2 linked regions of the Homo sapiens genome follow. The protein of the gene in region 1 interacts with the protein of each later gene in a pairwise test. Each region holds a gene or a part of one and is shown on either strand. Other genes may lie near its edges.

Region 1 (7,024 bases):
TCACACAAACCAAATACCCACTAACATTAGAAACCAAAGAATATCTAATACTGACAGTGTTGCCGTTTTAGAAATCTAGCCAATGGTTCTCAAACGGTGGCCCCGAGACCAGTGTCAGGGACAAAATCACCTGGGAACTTGTTAGAAATACACATTCTGGGGCCCTACCTCAGCCCACCTGAAAGATCGTCTTTGGGTCGGGCCCAGCAACCTGGATTTTTAACAAGCCCTGTGGTGACTGTGATTCTCACGCATGCTAAGTTTGAGAATCACTGTTACAAAACAAGAAACAAAAATAAGACATATGGCTACTAGAAAGGGATAAATTCTAAATTTCTATACCGAGAAAACCTGGTTAATAAGTAAAATAAGACACTAGAAAGTCATTTTAATATCGCAAGTCCAATCATCTCTCTCTTTTCCAAAAATCTCTGAAGGCTCCTCTTTGCTCTGGGACGGGAGTGGGCAAACTATAGCCCACAGGCCCAATCTAGCCTGAAGCTTGTTTTTGTCAAGTTTTATTGGAAGACAGCCACGCAGATTCACTCATCTTGCTTTCATAGTAATTATGGCAGAGGCTGTGCAGCCCACAAAACCTAACGTATTTACTTCTGGCCCTTCACAGAAAGTTTGCTGACCCCTGCTAAGACAAAGTACAATTTCTTCAACTCAACTGACTGGAGTTCTCCAAGATGTGGCCACAATTTCAGGTGCTCCCAATCTCCAGCAAATACATCTTCTTGCAGGTCTATGTTTGCACCACCGTCATCCTATGGCCGTTCACACATGTTGCTTCTCACGACTAGAACCCCCCGCCCCCCGCCGCCCCTTTCTGGCTAATAGCCACTTATTCCTCAGCTGTTATCCCATCACTTTCCCTGGGAGCCCTTCCCTGACCCTTGATGTCCAGACTAGTGTAGATTCCTCTTCCTGTGTTCTTAAAGCCACCTCTATCCTCATATCACTTTCTACTCATTATCAGTTTTGTTTACTTTTTTTTCTTTCCATCTAGACTATATGCTCCATGCAGGCAGGGGCCAGGCAGGTTTTGTTGTCCCCAATTATCCCTAGTACATGGCAGAACCTGATACAGAGTAAGCACTCCATTCATTCTAGAATTCTAGAATGAGTAAAAAAAGAAAGGTTCAGCCGGGTGTGGTGGCTCACGCCTGTAATCCCAGCACTTTGGGAGGCTGAGGCGGGTGGATCACGAGCACGAGGTCAGGAGTTCGAGACCAGTCTGCCCAACATGGTGAAACCCTGTCTCTACCAAAAGTACAAAAATTAGCTGGGCGTGGTGGTGGGCGCCTGTAATCCCAGCTACTCGGGAGGCTGAGGCAGGAGAATTGTTTGAACCCAGGAGGCAGACGTTGCAGTGAGCCGAGATTGCGCCATTGCACTCCAGCCTGGGCGACAGGGCAAGACTCCATCTCAAAAAATAAATAAATAAATAAATAAATAAAATAAAATAAAAGTTCAGTAGCTATCTGTGTATGGGGCAGGGGATTCACAATAGCCACAAAAACCATAAGCTATCTGGGAATACTTCCAATAAAAATGTTTTTTAAATGGTTAAACAAATAAAAAGAACAAAAATCACAAAATTTGACCAAGAAGAAAAGATTTAAACATAAGGGAGACATATAAGATTTATGCATGGAAAGACCCAGGAGTGATAGTTCTTCTGAAGACTTACTAAATGTGGGTTTCATTCATACGAAGTTTTGCTTTTTATGACATTTGAAGAGAGACTATCATTTTAAGCAATCAGGTTAATTAGCAAAAGCATTAGGAAAGGTTTAATTGCCATCTGCTTCTCATAGACAAACAACGTGGCTGTCCCTCCCAAATAGTAAGAAGGCATGTGAACTGAAAATTTCATACCATGTATCAAATGTCTCAGATATTATCAGAGAACTCATATGCTGACTGACCCAGTAATTATATTTCTCTAATTATTTCCTCAAAACAATTTTCTAAATGTGAACAAAGATTTATGTAGAAGAATGCTCACAGTAACATTAGTACAGCAAAATATTGGAAACAAATTAATGCTAACAATAAGACCCGTGACCCCAATTGATAACCATCAACATGATATTAAACAGTCTTCAAAAACGATGTTTTTAAAGGCCTGTGTGCCAGGCTCAGAGCAGGCTTCCAATGAGTATCTGCTGGACAAACAAACATTCAATGAAACCAGCAAAAATGCTCCTCCTGGAACATTAATTGTCCCAACTGGGAAGCAAACTACACGGAGAGAGGCAGAGAGAACATAAAAGAAATACAGGAAAATGTTCACTATGAATGGTTACCTCTGCATAGCAGAATTACAGGGGATTTTTCTTTTCTGCTTCAATATATGCTATACCTTCTAAATACTTTTAGTTTTGAGCAAGGTTCTGGAGTCAGAAGACCACTGTCTATGTGTCACTTTGAATAAATCCCATAACCTCTCTAAGCCTCTATTCTTTGTCCCTAAATTGGGATAACAGGTCATCGTTATGATTCAACAAAATCCTGCTGGCAAAGCATTCGGAGCATGCCTGGGACATAACAAGGCAGTAAATATTAGCTATAGCTAGCATCTACTATTTCCCTACATCTATAATTACATGTTCTTTATAGTGATATAAATTCTAATTTCAGAATTAACCTTTAACATACCTTTGCTTCTTCTAACATTTCTTGCGTTTCTTCTTGAGAATGGCTAATGAAGACATCACCAATTTGATAAGGTATCATTAAGCAATCATCATCTGCAAGCATGATGTCATCACAAGCATCTTCTAGGTTTTGGAGTTGTTTCTATAAATGCAAAATGGCAAAGAAAATGTACTCAAAGTTCTCTGATAGAAGCTAAAGGCCAATTGTAATTTGGGGACAGCAACTCTCTGAGGGACCCTCTCACAAAGGTATTATTACCACATTAGAATAAGACCTTAATTTGTAACTTTTTAGAAGACATTTCACAAGCAAGCACTTAGAGCTACCTAAAGCTTTGTCCTCTGGACAATAAGCGCCCTGTGGTGGACAGCAGGCACATGGTCACTCAAAATTTCTTCTATTTTAACAATTTTTGACTTTGTGAATTCTGCCTTCCTACAAAAACAAAACCAAAAAAACCAGCCTACATTTCTCAGCCTTGCTTGCTGATAGGGTGTAAGTAAATCATGCGGGTAATGAAAGTTCTGCCAGCATGCATAAGTGATAATAACTTCAATTCCACCAATCAAATGCATTTGAGCTGGATTTCAACTCAAGGGGGACGGCTGGACACAGGCCCCAGATTTACTGGGGTAGGTGGCACTGGCAGCAGCAGCTTGGTGTTCCTAAGTCTGCAAGGGTGGCTTCCTCATTGGGAAGACAGCTGACTCTGGGATCAGTGGAGGCAACAGCTGTTCCACCGCCAGCCAAGTTCTCCGAGACTTGTTCCTGGAACCTCGGTCTAGACTCAAGCTCCTCAACAACTCTGTAAGTTATCGCATATCCCTTAAAAAAAAAATGACTTTCTGCTTAACTAGAGTGGATCGCGTCATTCATCTGCAACAAACAGCCCAGAGAAATATATATTCACTTGTTAACTGAGTTCAGTTTTAGTAGCTATAGTATAAAAAAATTTTATTCTTCTAATAATTATTTTCAATACCTTTTTTACTTCTATTTCTTCCTTCAGCTCTGTGATTCTACTTGTATTCCGTGCAAATTTGTTTATCTTTTGTTGATCTTCGAAAGTAACATTGACATCTTCTGCAGCCTGAAAGAAGTGTTTAAGTTTTTGTAAAATTTTAACGGAGAAGTTATCAGTTAGCTTTTTATATTTCTCAACAATAACTCAATAAGCCATTTGCACTCATATAGTCAAGAATCACAAGAAGTACAGAACATAACAAATGCCTTATTTTTTGCTCCACAAGCTTAAGGTTTGTTTGTAAATCTATAACCTTTTCTGATACTCCATAAAATAATTCCTAAGCTATAAACATATTGCAAACATAAAGAACAATTAATAAGTCCTTTTAAAAGGAAAGAAAAAAAGCCAACTTTTGGCACAGAGCAGAATTTCTCAAGTTGGAGCATTCTTTCATTAAGATGACCCAGGAAACAAAAAGTTACATGGTCAAATATATTGGTAAATGTCTCAGAGTAGTGTTTTTTTTTTCTTAGAGCTAAAACTTGCATGAGCTTACTGGCTAAAGGGTCACTGTACATTTCAGTGGCTCTATTCCATTCACAGCAAAAATTATGTTTATAATGTAGGACCTGTTTAAATGTCTTAATAAGGTCTACTTTACTAAAAAATGATGAAAATTGAATGTTTAGTATTTAAAAATTAATATTTAATGTGATTAAATTTACAAATTTGCAAATAAAGAGTACTTGGATAACATAAAGTACCAATGAAATAATAAAAAAATAGCTAACACTGATTGAATTTACTATGTGCCAAAACTTCCTAAGTACTTTATTATCTCTGCTAATCCTGCAATCCATCTTATTAGGGAGGATCACCAGCACTATTTTACAGATTGAGAAACTGAGGTACACTTTATATAATATGGCCAAAGCCACAGAGCCAGTAGGTGGTGGAACTTGATTTCAACCCAGGCAGACTGGCTTCAGAGGTCAGACAGGTCCATGAGTTCTCGGTAACTGAATGTGAACGTGCGTCTCTGTGAGTGTGCACGTGTGTGTGTGAGTGTGTACACAGGCTTAGGCACATCTGGAAGAGGCAGCAGGATGTCTGCTTTCATCAGATTCTCAAGGAGGTACCATATATTTTTAAAAAATAAAGCTAAAACATAAAACCAGACTCTCCTTAGGGTTTCCCTTCCATTTATAAAATGAAAACCAGAGCACCTGATTCTAGTTTAAAGAAGAAAAGATATTTGTGTGTGTATAAAAATAGTTCATACTGAAACACTACTTTTGGCTCTTTTGCAGTAACAGTAATGAGCTCACAACATTCACACTCCATCCCTGACCTGGTCTCTCATGACCATCGACTTAAGGTATGTGAACTTTTATTTCTCAGAGGTTGAAAGGCAGTGTCAAGCAATACAGAGCTCAGTGGTCGGAATATAACACAGTCCTCCCCTTTGTTAGGCTCTCATTCCAAGAAACAATTTCACATGCATTATGCCCCACCTCAACAACCCAGAAGATAGCCTGAAAAAATCCTTTACATCACACTATGTCTAGCTTTGAGTGTTCAACCGTATGCATAATTTTGATGAATATGGAAGTTGGGGAACACTGAGCTACGCTCAAGAAACCAAAGTCTATATCTTGGCACACAAGTCATTTTGCCTAAGTGAGAACTGTCAATTCCCTACGCAAATAGACAGCAGAGAATTCTGAAGAGTTCCTGTTTGCCTGAAGAGTATATGCCATTTTGTTTAAATATTGAACCCCCAACAGGCATTTATAGATGTATTTGTCTTGGTGAGGGCTCAACAGAGCCATTCACATGAACGGATCCAGTGCAGGACTGCCTGGCACATAACTAAGGCTAATACATGGTTTCTGAATTTGAATCTAAATCATGCTTGATCAGACTCAAACACATAGTTTCCAAAATGTGGTAGAGAGAATTTGGCTATCTGCTTTCTGTCTTTCCAAAGCAGGAATTTCCTGTTGTAGCCCCACCAAACCACAGGCATCAGCACACATGTGGCCCCTGGTATCCAGATCTTTACAGTGGTTTTCCCACTGGGGTTAAGGGCTAAAGTTGATGTGTGAGTCAAATATACTGCATGCCGCCCAGTGGAGTGCCATTTACAGCAGACAGTAAGATGTCAGTGCCTTTGATGGCTAACAGAGGCTTCTGTTTTAGTCTCACTGTCCTAGAACATTCCTACATTTCTTGAAGCTGCATTTTGGCAAGAAGTGGGTAATTTTTTTTTTTTTTTGGTGAGACAGAGTCTCACTCTGTCGCCCAGGCTGAAGTGCAGTAGCATGATCTTGGCTCACTGCAACCTCCACTTCCCGGGTTCAAGCCATTCTCCTGCCTCAGCCTCCCAAGTAGCTGAGATTACATGCACATGCCACCATGTCCGGCTAATTTTCGTATTTTTAGTAGAGAAGGGGTTTCACCATGTTGGCCAGGCTGGTCTTGAACTCCTAACCTCAGGTGATCCACCAGCCTCGGCCTCCCAAAGTGCTGGGATTACAGGCTTGAGCCACCACGCCCAGCCAGAAGTGGGTAATTCTTAACTGGGGGGTGGGGGTGGTCAATGGACATTGACAGGTCGATATACCCAGAGACTGTATGCAAAATGGCATGTATAGTATGTGCATCCTTCTGGAAGGTCTTCATAGCTTTCACCAGATTCTCAAAGGGATCCACAACCCCAAAAGGTTAGGAACTCCTGCCTTCAGGGAAACCAGCTGTAGCTACTCTCAAAGTCAGAAGAACTCTAGGAAGAACTCATATCCTATAGTATCTGAGGCAGCACACAGAGTGGTGGGAAGAGTCAGGCTGCAATCCAATCCAAGCAAACAGGAACCTTGGGCAAATTACCCAATTCTTTGGAACCACCTCAGGTTTCTCATCTGTAAAATGGAGAGGCTAGTTCCTACCTTATAGGGTTGATAAAATGAACATGTAGGAGAAAGCCTGATGATGGAGTCAGTCAAATGATAGCTAAGCATTTTACATCCTGAATATTGTTTATCAAAAATCATTACAAAGAACAGATCCAGATCTAGAAAGAAATTCTGCTAGGCCAAAGAGAAATATGCCTGCTCGGGATCCAAAGTAAAAATTAAAATTCCCTGGGCTCTTTTCTTGAGAACTAATATCTTACGGGATTAGAGGAGGAAACTGAACCATACTCAGTCATGCCTCACACCAAGTCTAGGTATTACACGGAGTCTGCACTGACAGCTGGGTCCCTAGAAATAAATTCTGGCCAATTTCAGTCTTTTATTTTTACTTTTAAAAACATATCTACCAAGTCTGTATGATGTAAACTTTTGCTTTGTATTTGTATTCAACCTTCTTTGTTTGTTTTTTTGTTTT
Region 2 (7,189 bases), on another chromosome or scaffold:
CACCCAAGTAATTTTCTGACCCTGTTTTTTTTTGCAGTGGCGGCTTATTTGGCCTCCCCAGGACGGACTGGAGCATCAGTAGTGCCTGAGTTCATCAAAGGACAGATGCTCAAGACACCTTGATCACCATTAGGTGGAATTGAAGGAGCCAAAAATGGGCGCAGTGGCTCCTCAGCAGAGACGCTCCTGAATGTATAGACATGGGAACCACTTTCAGCATCAAAAAAGGAAACGTTCTGCATGCCCATATCCAGAAAAATCCCCACTCGCTGTAACTTGCGGTCTACTAAGAGGAAAGTCAGCGGCACCGTGCTGGCAGAGAGGCGGCTTCCATCCCTCAAACTCACAGTCCAGAATCCAAGCTCTGTGGTCAGCTGGATCTTCCCTTTGCAGTGAACAGATTCTCTGCAGACTCCCAGGTCCCATTCTGTGCTTGTTCCCACGTCCACCTCCCAGTAGTGGCGGCCACAGGTAAAGCGAGGGGAGCCCAGGATGCAAACGGACACGTCAAATCTCTCGGCAAGGTCTTGCCGATTCTGTGTGATGAGCCCACTTCGGACGCTCCTGAGGTCGTCAGAAATGAGGAGGAAGTTGTTGGCTGTGTCGGCATCCAAGGTCATATCCACTGTGAAAAGGAAAACAAGTTGCTCAGCAAGTGGACAGAAGCCAACCCCATGCCTCTCTTCTACTTCAAAGGCCCAAATATCTCCTGACTTTAGTTTCTTTAATTCTGTTTCTTCCTCCAAAATCAAAACTTTTCATGAGGAAACTTCCCTATTTCAAATTTTCATAGGTATGCTTTGTGGCAATACGTGACTCTTATTCACAGTAGCAATTCTTATTTTACTTTACGTCACGTGTTTGCTTCACTGAACTTTTCTTCATTTAGAGTGGAGGGTCTCTGAAGGCAGACACCATGCCCCCCTTTCTACCACCTTGATGTGTGAACAAATAAATGATAATTAAGACAATGCAAGTGGTCAATATTAAATATGTTTCTGCTTCCACATTTTATTGCTCCAATTCAGTATATAGAGCATGATTCCAGGCTTTTGTTTTCCATGTTTGTAAACAAATTAATTGTGCACAGTTCTGACAGCAGATAGGGTATCTCTGCAGCTGACAATGTGATGACAGAGATGCTGGTCCTGGACATTAGGAGGCTCTAAGGCCAGGTGGAGGAGGGGGACCTTTTAGATGAAAGAATGTTTTCTATCCTACATGGAAGGTGAGACCTTAAGCAAAACAATGGTAAATTTTGGAGCCAAGAGAAAGGTATTTGAAAGTTGTCTGTCATAACTGACTGATTGTAGAGAATAAGGGCAGAAAATACAAAGGTCAATAATTTAAGGCATTGGGTATGTGACTGACAGGTGAAGCCGCCAATTCTCATGGAGGAGGCAGTGTGATCTGGCCTAGAGAAAATTAATTGTCCAGAACATTCTGAAAAAAAAAAATCTACAAAATATATTATCCTTCAAGTCAAAAAACTGATATGATCACTAATATAGATTTTATAGATCACAGTAAGACTACCCTAGTCAAGACTAGGGATTGATTGCTATTTAATGGTGAATTAGGGAATGGACATGGACAAGGAAGGAGGAAGAGGGTTCCAAACATGACTTGGACAGGGTGAATCTCTGTCCTCCATAGTTCAGCAGAGAGACAGTCAGGTATGGGTAGATGGATGAGTAGAGATCATGGGTGTCAGGGCAGAAGCTACCAGTGTCAGGGACATTATAGGGGCCCACCACCATTTATAGGTGTAATTCTTTGCCCAGGCTGACCATAACCTTTTCATTTAAATGTCCCTTTTCCCCAGAGTTATGGAGAGTGATAGTATTTTCTGTAGCCAGGACCACTGTTGGAGCCCATGGCGCATGGATGAGGAGACCAATATCTGCAACTCTCCCCACTCACAGAAACAAACACCATAGGTGCTCCATTCCCAACTCTTCTCAACCCTGGGGTGAGGTTGTTTGGTACAATGGGTGCCAATATTCACTGTGCATTAGAAATACCAGGCCCATCTTAATGTCAGATTCATGGGAACCTTTGCTAGAGAGAAATTCAAATTCAGTTGCTCTATGTTTTTGCTACTCAGCAAAGTCCCCAAGCCAGCGGGATCAATCCTGAGACTTCCCAGTTCAGCATCTGCATTTTAACAAGATCCCCAGGTAATCTGAGCACACTAAGTTTAGAGAATCCCTTGTCTAACCCATGACATAGACATCGGGTTTTTGTTTGTTTTTGTTTTTGACATCACCAGGTGATTCTATGTGTTGTCAGGGCTGAGAATGTGATGATGAAGCATCTCAATTTTAGGTGCCAGACAGCAGCTAATCCCCATGTGGAATGAGGGGCCAACTGCACAGATGATTTTTCCTGGTCTGGTCTTGGGAAGGGGGCAGGGTATACAGATTCCTTACCTTGGAACTTCCGCATCCTTGGGTTCATCTGTAGAATCTTCTTCAGCTTGGGCTCCAGTTCCTTGATGTGGGAAACCAGCCTCTCTAGCTGCCGATTGGGCCTGATTTTGTTCCTCTGAGAGACCATGGAACAGCAACAGCAAAGCAGATCCTCCCCATGGGGCTCCTTCTGCAGCGAATTGATGCACTTGAGGCAGACGGTGCATCCACACTCCAGGGACATTGGTTTTTCCAGATAGTCTGAGCAGACGGGACAGCTGCTTGCTTCTTGGAAGAGTGCAGCCATGTCCACTGCCAGGGGAAAAGTACACAAGGGAAGAAAATTTCCTTGAGGTGAAAGCCTGTTAGTTGTGACAAGTGACAACCTTTTCATGCATAGAGGTATTGTGTTCCAGCTTTGTCACTCCGAGAACAAGACCATGAGTACAAACACTCAAGCACATCCCCCCACCCCCCGTCCTCAGAGATTTGAAGTTCTATTGGGAAAGTCACGAATCATCACTGTGCTCTGAGCTGAGGTGGAGGAAGGGTCCATTCTCCTGGTGACCCAGCAGCTGAGCCTGAGCCAGTGACGTGGCAGCACCCATGTGAGGAACAGCGAGCTGGGGTCATTTCACCACCTCCTAGGGGAACCCCAGCAAGAGACTGATTGATGAACATAAGAATTAGGAGCTGAGAGGCTGGGCACGATGGCTCATGCCTGTAATCCCAGCACTTCGGGAGGCCAAGGTGGGTGGATCATCTGAGGTCATCAAAAGTTCGAGACCAGCCTGATGGGTGAAACCCCATCTCTACTGAAAATACAAAAGAATTAGCCAGGCGTGGTGGCACACGCCTGTAATCCCAGATACTTGGGAGGCTTTGGCAGGAGAATCGCTTGAACCTGGGAGGCAGAAGTTGCACTGAGCCAAGATTGTGCCATTGCACTCCGGCCTGGGCAACAGAGTGAGACACCATCTCAAAAAAAAAAAAGGGGGCTGGATGCAGTAGCTCACATCTGTAATCCCAGCACTTTGCGAGGCCAAGGCAGGAAGATCCCTTGAGCCCAGGAATTTGAGACGAGTCTGGACAACACAGGAAGACCTCATCTCTACAAACAATACAAAAATTAGCAGTGAGCAGAGACCACGCCAGGTCACTCCAACCTGGACAACACAGTAAGACCCTGTCTCACCAAAAGAAAAGAAAAGAAAAAAAATTACATCCTTCTCCAGCCTTGGAAATGAATACCAAATTAACTGCCACCACTGGTGGGCAGGGGACAGGCTCGGAGGTTCCCTGAATGACAGAGAGTTGTTTTAGGAACCTCATGTCACACCCTTCTGAGACACTGTGGACCATGTCTGAGGGGTCCTACACTGGCACTGAGGGGGCCTGACCCCTCTTCATACACTGAGGTCAGGGGGCTCCCAGGTACACAACAGGATGCTGACCTCCTGCCGCTCGCCCACCCACAGGCCAGCCCAAGGCCACCCCCTTGGTCACTCTGTTCCCGTCCTCCTCTGAGGAGCTCCAAGCCAAAAGGCCACACTGCTGTGTCTCATGAGTGGCTTCTACCCGGGAGCTGTGACGGTGGCCTGGAAGGCAAACAGCACCCCTGTCACCCAGGGTACGGAAGTCACCAAGACCTCCAAACAGAGCAACAAGCACACAGCCAGAAGCGACCTGAGCCTGACACCCGACCAGTGGAGGTCCTGCAGCAGCTACAGCTGTAAGGTCACACACAAGAGAGCACTGTGGAGAAGACAGTGGCCCCTGAAGAATGTTCTTAGGTCCCTGACCCTCACCCCACCCATGGGGGCCTGGAGCTGCAGGATCCCAGAACAGAGATCCCCTCCCACCCCAAATCATCCAGCCCCTCTCCTTGTACCAGTAAACCCTTAATAAATATCCTCACCGTCAACCAGAAATCCTGCTCCCTCTCTTCATTTCTTAGCTAACATATAATTTGACACTCACCCTGGGTTCTTAGTGTGTGTAAGGGGGGATTACTTGCACCCTGTTGGATAGCAGCCCGGGGGAGAGGCTCCCAGACTCCCAGGGGTGTCTCCTGAGGAAACAGGCCAGGCCAGGCATTTGATCACTGAACACCTCTCTCTCCATTCTCTCTCCCCACCTCTTCCTCCTTGCAGCTTGGCCCCCAATTGCTGACTACTTCCTGGATGAAGCTGTCCCTAGCTGAGCCTTAAGACGCACCCTCTGTCCCTACCCTAGTCAAGACCCTCTACCCACCCACAGCCTCTGTTTCTTTAGCCTTGAAATCCTACTCTGGGCCTGGAGCTCCCTGGCCCCTGGAATGCCCTCTTTTCTCTCTGCCCAGCTCCCCAGCCCTGAGAGCCAGGCTGTCCAGGACACTGTTGCATCGTCAAATTCATGAGGTCTTACATTTGGGGCCCGCCTCAATTCTTCACCTTACAGCAGGTTCAGAGATGGAAAAAAAAATGGGAGGAAGCCAGGAAGGAAACACACACAAAAGGCCAGCAGGTGGCTCAGGATGCTTGTGAAAGGTAGTATCCCAGCTGTGCAGGAAGCAGTGCAAGGAGGGTAATAGGTGTTCCCTTATTTCTATGAGAATATGCAAAGCATTTGCTCAAGGAGAGTTGGTTTTCTCAGTGTTGAAGCCAGCCATCTTTTCTTTTCTTTCTTTTTTTTTTTTTTTTTTTGAGACAAAGTCTCGCTGTGTCACCAGGCTGGAGTGTAGTGGCACAATCTTGGCTCACTGCAACCTCTGCCTCCCAGGTTCAAGCGATTCTCCTGCCAAAGCCAGGCATCTTTTCACGACTAAAAGCAAGTACCTGTCTTAACCAAGGCCTCAATATTGATGGGATTTGGTCTCTGACACATGCACAGGTGACCTGTGCACCTAGGGCTGCCTGGCAGCTCTAGGAAATGGCAATTCTGTCAGGTACTTGGCACAGAAAGTCACTGGCCTTCTTTGGAGGATGCATCATTTATGGAAACACTTCTTTATTGGATCCTGGGTCTCGGGTGGAAAACCAGGTCCCACATCAGGACTTTCTCTGTGAGGCTCCCAGGTTCTGGGGCTCCAGCTGCTGTCTGAGAGGAAGGTGTGGAGACAGAGAACATAGCCTAGAAGAGCCTGGAACTGAGACTTCCCCTTACCGAGGTTATGCAAATGAGGTTCTTGGACTACATATTCTGATTGGATGAGAAGAAAAACCTCTAGATCTACTCTGATTGGGCTTTATTTGCATGTTCTGATTGGATGAGAGCAAGTCTTAGGACAACCAATCAGAACATGATAACAAAGTCCAATCAGAGTAGGCCTAGAGGTTTTCCTCATCCAATCAGAACATGTAGCCCAGGAACTTCATTTGCATAAATTCTCATATATAAATGATGCCAAGTGGGGGGAGTTTTGTCATTCCAAGCTCTCCTGCGTCAGCTTGTGTAGCTGGTTAGTACTGGCTTAGAGGAAAAAGAAAACGAGTCACTTCCTGAGCACACTGGAGTCTGGAAGCTTAGAGGAAAAGGAGGAGGAGCAACTTCATTAGCACAGTGGAGGCTGGAGCCTGCCGTGGCTCACCTCGCTGCTGCCGTTGGTGCGGGCCAGGGAGACTAGAGCGCAGCCAGAATGGTAAAATGGTGGTGGGAAAAGTTCGCCATCCCAGGCCGTACTGCCTGTGGCGTGGCGTGGTGGGGTGGGTTGGAGGCCCTATCCAGGGCGTTACTGCCCGTGTTAGGAGGCTGGTTGGATGTGGTATCTGGGGCCTCACTGCCCACAGAGGGGAGTGGGTTGGGGGTGCTATCGGGTGTGCGCTGCCCGTGGCTGGGGGTGGGTTGGAGCACTATCCCAAGCTGTACTGCTAGCGGCAGTGGGGAGTTCTGGGGGCACTATCTGGGGATGCAGTGGCCGTGGCCGGCGGGCGAGTTGGAAGAACTATCGGGTGTTGCATTGCCCTTGTCAGGCACGGGTTGGGGGCGCTATCGGGTGCTACTCTGCCTGCGGTGGGCGGGACGTGTTATATCCAGGGCATCATTGCCTGCGTCTAGAAGCTGGCTGGGGGCATTATCCATAGCTGCACTGCCCACAGCAGGGAGCAGGTTGGCAGCACTATCTGGGGCTGCAGTGCTGTGGTGGGGGACGGGTTAGGCTCATTACAGGGTGCTACACTGTTGGCAGCAGGGAGGGGGGTGTTGAGGGCGCTTTCTGGGGCCTACACTGAGACAGAGATAGCAGGATTTATTGGGAGTGCTACTGGGGGCCAGACTGCCCGTGTAGAGGGGGTGGGAGGCTGGTTGGGGGCGCTATTGAGGGACGTATCCACTGCCCGTTTTGGGAGGGGGCGGGTTGGGTGCTATCAGAGGTCTGTACTGCGTGCCAGGGAGCTGGTGGGTGTGCTACCTGGGGCCACATTGGTTCCGGCGGGGCGGGTTGGGTGCGCTATCGGGGGCTACCTTGCCCGCGCAGGGGGTGGGTTGGGTGCGCTATCTGTGGCTGTACTGCCGGAGGCAGGGAGTGAGTTGGGGCGTCTCCCTGGGTTGCTGCTCCCAGTGGGGAGCAGGTTGGGGCACTATCCGGGGTTGCACTTCCCGCAGTTGGGGGGCGGTTTGGGTGCCATATCAGGGCATTACTGCCCCCAGCAGGGGTCTGGTTGGGGGCACTATTCGTGGCTACACTGTGTACGGCAGGGAGCGGATTGGGGGCGCTATCCCGGGCTGCACTGCCCGCGGCAGGGGGCGGGTTCTGGGCGCCATTGGGTGCTGCAGTGTCCGAAGCAAGGGCAGGTTGGGGT

What was found. Proteins that work in one complex are often made in the same cells at the same time.
Region 2: the proteins of PFDN4 (region 1) and RFPL3 interact in binary tests that used the Homo sapiens proteins (3 or more experiments, as listed by UniProt).

The regions. Positions count from the first base shown.
Region 1 is NC_000020.11:54,211,084-54,218,107, reverse strand, and holds part of PFDN4 (prefoldin subunit 4), read right to left. Parts: intron 3,758-7,024; coding exon 3,650-3,757; intron 2,811-3,649; coding exon of another isoform or gene 2,809-2,810; coding exon 2,668-2,808; intron 1-2,667. UniProt on the Homo sapiens protein: Binds specifically to cytosolic chaperonin (c-CPN) and transfers target proteins to it. Binds to nascent polypeptide chain and promotes folding in an environment in which there are many competing pathways for nonnative proteins.
Region 2 is NC_000022.11:32,353,688-32,360,876, reverse strand, and holds the start of RFPL3 (ret finger protein-like 3), read right to left. Parts: upstream 3,011-7,189; 5' UTR 2,806-3,010; coding exon 2,433-2,805; intron 972-2,432; exon of another isoform or gene 626-971; coding exon 45-625; 3' UTR 1-44.